2 separate regions of the Homo sapiens genome follow, and region 1 is linked to region 2. The links come from fine-mapping of genetic effects on gene expression. A gene starts in region 2. The other region holds a variant in brackets. All regions are shown on one strand. Distances are from middle to middle.

Region 1 (2,911 bases), 160 kb before region 2:
TCTCTGGGCTGTTATACTAATTGGAGGAGCACGTATTACCTGAACAAGTTTCAATGGAAACTGTGATTTGCTAAATTACATGGTTTGCTTTGACGGGGTTACTTTAAGGACTGATCTTGAAAATTAATGCCTCTTCCTTCTCTCCCCACTTCCCATAATGCTGTTAACTCATCAAAAGTGAGGGCGATTTAGAATCTTCAGTCTCCTTCTTAAAGCCCTGAAATGGCTTCTCACTGTGCTTGGGATAAAGGCTGATCCCTAACGTGGTTAAGAGGCCTCATCTGACCTGCCTCCTGCCGCCTTCCAGATTCATCCCTCTACTCCACACTCAGATGCTGCACATCGCATCCTGAACTTCTCCTCGGATGCATCACAGCTTCTCTGCCTGGTACCCTCCTTTGCTTCCTTCTTCCAAGCAGAGATCAAGTTTTTTCATCTCCCTTTTCCTGGCCTGGCATAGTTCCCTCTTTTCCTGGTAAAAGCACCTCAGTCTCCTTGGGAGTCTGCTCTATCCGCATACTGTGGGTGGGTATGACCAAGCTATGGGGTCGAACAGAATCAAGCCTGGGCAAAGCAGAGTCAACCTCAGGACTTTTGCTGGCACTATTGTGAGGTGCCTTTCTATGGAGGTTTTAAGCAGACAGGATGTCAGCCTGGAACTGCACAGGAATGTCTTTGCCACCATGAATGTCTTTGCCACCATGAATGTGTACCCTGATTGAAATGAAGCTGCAGAGAGGCATGCAGACTCAAGAGATAGAGATGGATTCCTAATGACATCACTCAAGCGCCTAGATCCAGCCATTCCTGAAGCAAACAACTCTGGGACTTTCCAGTTACGTGAGCCAATGTATTTCAGTTACATGAACACATGTGTATTTCTCTGTTTGTTTAAAGCAACTTGAGCTAGGTTTCTGTCAATTGCAACTGAACGCTTCCTGAAGAATACACTTTCCCTTTTATTTCGTTAACTTTTGTTTATCCTTCAGGTATCAGCCTAGAGTCCTCCCTGATTCCCAAATCTGGGTTGGGTCCCTCCTCTGTGCATTCACAGAACCCTCTGTTTTCCACATATTAGCACTTAAACCACTGCACTGTCATTTTCTGTTTGCTTCTTTGATTCTCTGCCTACACTCTGAGCCACAAGCACAAGTCTTCCTGTGGTAATTACCACTGTGCCTATGTCTGCGAATGGTGCATAGTAGGCTGTTAGTAATTTTCATTGATTAGACCAATTAGTTAACGAAAATTACTGAACCTATATATAGTGGGCTACATCTATCAATTTTGAGAAATTAAGAGTAAATGTCTGAATCACTGTGTTAAAGAATTCTGTGATTGAATCCAGATTCATCAAGAAAGAAAAAAGATCTGATTGATTAGTAATGCCTGCTATGGGTCTGGGAATGGAGAGTTATGGTATGTGTGCCACATGCTCACCATCTTTGGTGTCTATTACCACTGAATTCCTTGTTCTCTGTTTGTTCCATGAGTGAATATCTTATCTCTTCAATTAGATTGTAATCTCCTTGAAGGTATGGACCAGATCTTTGACTTTTCAAGCATTACTGTTTTCTCTGCATCAGATATCTAAGTGCTTGGTAAA[C/T]ATTTGCTGGCAGACAGGGCTATGTTCTTTCAAAGTGAAAAACTGGAGACTTCACAGCTGTAACCTTCCAATCAGCCCCACCATTTCTCCATGGCCCAATGAGGGAAGAGCCAGGATTTGCTCCTTTCATTTTCTGTATTAGGAAAGACAAAGAGGCATATAGCCACCTTTCCCTACTGTTTCCACTTAATGTTCATGCTATTTCATGGCATTCAGCGACATAACTCTTCCAATCAAAGAGTTGCAATGTTCCCTAAGCATGAAATAAACAACAGCCTTCAAGAATTCCTGGGAATGGCCAGGTGCCGTGGATCACGCCCGTAATCCCAGCACTTTAGGAGGCTGAGGCGGGCGGATCATGAGGTCAGGGGTCAAGACCATCCTGGCTAACACGGTGAAACCCCATCTCTACTAAAAATAGAAAAAATTAGCCGGGCGTGGTGGCGGGCACCTGTAGTCCCAGCTACTCAGGAGGCTGAGGCAGGAGAATGGCGTGAACCCGGAAGGCGGAGCTTGCAGTGAGCCAAGATTGCGCCACTGCACTCCAGCCCAGGCGACAGAGCGAGACTCCGTCTCGAAAAAAAAAAAAAAGAATTCCTGGGAATGACATCAGTGAGTGAGCTGGATAATGTAGGTTGGCTCTCAGCTCTACTTACCCACACTCAACTCTTCTTTACTGCTAGGGCTTTTGGAAAGCTGCTAACCACATTTCCTAGATACCTGTGCACTGACATTTGGTAGGTTCTACCAATGGGAGACATTAGTGGGATAATGGAAGGTGCAAGAAAGGAGAAGCCATTTCTCCAGCTCCTGGCGATGCTTCTGTCAGTATGACAGCGGCACCATCAACAGCACCAGCAGTGGTGGCAAGGCAGGGCGGGTGGTGCTGGGGGAGTGGCGTGTGGCTTCCAATCCTGTTCAGAAAGCTTGTTCCCATCAGCAGTACCCTCAGAGGCAGCGTACCTGTGGACTCACCTCAAAAACTTTGTCTAGTGAGAATTAATGAACCACAGCTGCATGAAACAACATGGAAAAATCTTAGAAATATGATGCTGAGTTTAAAAAGCACCTGTCTCTTTAAACTGTGTACAATATGATATCATTTTTACAAAGCCCCCACAGAAGCAAAATTTTACCGAATATTGCTTAGGGATGCATATGTATTTGACAAAACTATAAAAGAAAAAGCTGAACTGAAAGCACAAAATTGAGAATCATGGTCCCCTTGGGGCAGGGTGGTGGGGGAGGCAGAGTGATGGGAGAGAGAGGATGGAGTCAGTGGTATTAATATTTGGGAGTTTAAGT
Region 2 (2,911 bases):
AGGCGGTGGGGTAGGGGGAGGGAGATAGGGAGGATTTTGAGAAGTTGGTCAAAGGATACAAAATTTCAGTTAGATAGGAGGAAACATTCATGAAATCTATTGCACGACATGGTGACTATAGATAATAACAATGGGTTGTATTCTTGAAAAATGCTAAGATAATAGATTTTAAGTGTCCTCACCCCCGAAATGATCAGTATGTTAGGTAACGTTAACTAGCTGGATTTAGCCATTCCACAATGTATACATATTTCAAAACATGTTACTTACGATAAACACGTACAATTTTTACTTTTCCTTATGTACGTCTTCATCTGGCTGTTCATTTTTATCTTTTATACTATCTTTTATAATAAACTGGCAATAGTAAGTAAAGTGTTTTCCTGAGAAACAACAAACTGGAAACAACTGTTTAGCAACAAGAAACTGCCTGACCAGGTAGAAGGACGTGGTAGCTCTGTATGTATTGATATGGAATATAGTCTGAGATAAATTGTTTAGGAAAATGAAAAGCAAGTTGCCAAAGAACCCACAGTATGATGTCATTTATGTTGGAAAAAACGCCACAACGATGTGTGAGTGTGCACACTGAATGAAAGAAAATTCTGGAAAGAAACTAACGGCCAGCAGTGTCACAAGGGGGATAGGTAGTTTATTTATTTATGTGTGCGTGTGCAAAGTTCCGTATTGTAAGAATTTGCTACAGCCTGTGTTATTATAAGCTTTGTAATGAAACAGGTAGAAACTGAAAAAGTTTAATTATTCCCAATTCAGTTTAGGTTCTGTCTCCGGAAGACTTTCCCGGATTCCCCAGCCCCCACTCCCCACCCCATCTTACCACCCCCTCTGCCAGCTCTGAGTCTCAATTTTCTTTTCTGTAAGGATTTTCATCATTTAACCTTATTTCTTCTGAATGCACTAAATGGTAGTTATCCTAGCACTTAAGAGGATGTCGGAAACATGGTTCATTGTCTGACCCTTCCGACTCTGACTTGTATGAGCACATTTTGGGGGGAATGTAGGAGTCAGGGGAAGAGGAGTTCCAAAAAGAGACTACTAGAGGGTACAGCTGTCCCGGAAGAGACTTCTGAAGAGAGCAAAGCGCGTCCGACGTTTTTCTCGAGAGGCGCCGAAGTTTTCCGGAAAGAGACGACCAACTGAGAGGTGGGCCCCCAAAGCCGGCTGCGAGAGTCACCGAAGATTTCCGGAGAGCCAAGGAGTCGGGAAGAGCCACTTACTGAGCGTTGCCGAACGTGTACGGAGATAGCCGAAGAGGCGGAAGGCGGGGCCACAAGAGCCCTTCCTGCAGGGAACCTCAGGCTTCAGAGAGCCGAAAAGTTGGGAGGCGTAACCACTTACAGGCCGGAAGTGTCCGGGGTGGACGCATTCGGGTAGCCGAAGAAGTCCCAGGATTGCCGAAGAAGTCCCAGGATTTCCGAAGCGAGCCGAAGCATCGCGACAGTTTTCAGAGACAGCTGATCGGTTGGAGCTGTTGCGCCGAGCAGTCATGGCGGCGGCCAGAGCTACTACGCCGGCCGATGGCGAGGAGCCCGCCCCGGAGGCTGAGGCTCTGGCCGCAGCCCGGGAGCGGAGCAGCCGCTTCTTGAGCGGCCTGGAGCTGGTGAAGCAGGGTGCCGAGGCGCGCGTGTTCCGTGGCCGCTTCCAGGGCCGCGCGGCGGTGATCAAGCACCGCTTCCCCAAGGGCTACCGGCACCCGGCGCTGGAGGCGCGGCTTGGCAGACGGCGGACGGTGCAGGAGGCCCGGGCGCTCCTCCGCTGTCGCCGCGCTGGTAAGGTGGGCCGGGATCCCGGCGTGGGCGGCCCCGAGGCTCTGGGGCCTGGGCGGGTGAGGGACTCCCCTGCGCTCCGAAGCTGGATTTCCCTCAGTTTCTCCTTCTGTGCCTTCTGCGGTGTCCGGCCTTTCGGAAATGTTATTCTTTCATCCCTTTTTTCATTCGTTAAGTCTTAAGAAACCACGTGGCCATGCAGCGTCAAGCTTTTGTCCTGAGGCCGTTCTGCCTGGTTCAAATCTGGGATCTGTCATTATTGCTCAATGTTGAACATGTTTAACTTCCCTGAGCCTTGGTTTCCCCATTTGACTCGTTTCAATTTTCGATCATTATCTTTCCATTTATTAGTTTTAAGAAACATGTAATGACAAGTACTTGCCCCACTGGAGCCAGGCTCCCTGGGTTGAAATACTAACTCTGCTGCTTGTGTAGCCTTTCAACAAGTTATTTAGCCTCTCAGCCTCGGTTTTCTCACCTGTAAAATGGGAGACATAGTAGCAGTATCCATGTCATAGGGATGTTGTGACCATTAGAGGAGGTATGTGTGTCACGTATTATGTTCAAATGTGTGCCTGGCACATAGTGCCCAATAAATGTTGGATTTCATTAAATTGCCTATTTTTTCATTAAACATCATTGTGCGCCAGCACCATAAACTTTGTCCTCAGATGAGAAAGTGACACTCAGAGAGAAGTAACTTGCCCAAGGTTACACGGTTACTAAGTGGCCGGTCCAGGCCCTCAGCTCCTTATGCCTCTGACTCAGAAGCCCTGGCTTTTTACTTTTACGCTTCTTGCCTTTCTTTTATCAGTATTTTTTAGGTACCAGTGGGTACCAGGACATTGTTAAGTGCTGGGAGATCTGGGTGGGGGATATTCAGTAGCCAACAAGCGGACACATTGCTGCCCTTTCAGAGACTTAAGATTTCATGAAGTTATTTGTGTATTCATATTTCTGTTTTCAGCCTCATGATCTGTTTCGTTAAGCAGAGATTGTATTATAGCTGGCTTGTTTATTGCTGTATCCCCATTGATAACATCTCTCAGTTTCTAGAAAAGTATACTGAGCCTGGTTGACTTTCAGTAAAGATTCATTGAGTTTATTGGAGCTATTGTTCCTTG

Alleles and levels. Alleles are on the strand shown, and positions count from the first base shown. SD is a standard deviation of normalised expression in the study named.
For the expression in pancreas of the gene that starts at base 1,623 in region 2, T is the low allele of the variant in region 1 and C is the other (moderate effect, 0.67 SD a copy in GTEx).

The links.
Region 1: its variant is fine-mapped to the expression of TP53RK-DT in pancreas (GTEx, PIP 0.96).

Annotation. Positions count from the first base shown.
Region 1 is chr20:46,847,344-46,850,254 of GRCh38, reverse strand. No RefSeq gene overlaps it. Among named protein-coding and RNA genes, the nearest start is that of EYA2, 46 kb to the left of the region's middle. The variant C/T (reference allele first, on the strand shown) is at 1,607.
Region 2 is chr20:46,688,011-46,690,921 of GRCh38, reverse strand. It overlaps TP53RK-DT (TP53RK divergent transcript), which reads right to left and starts at 1,623. Exons shown (of 1, transcript NR_186399.1): 1 at 633-1,623. It overlaps TP53RK (TP53 regulating kinase), which reads left to right and starts at 1,478. Exons shown (of 2, transcript NM_033550.4): 1 at 1,478-1,790. The coding sequence starts at 1,508. RefSeq lists an enhancer at 1,030-1,619 and a silencer at 1,850-1,899.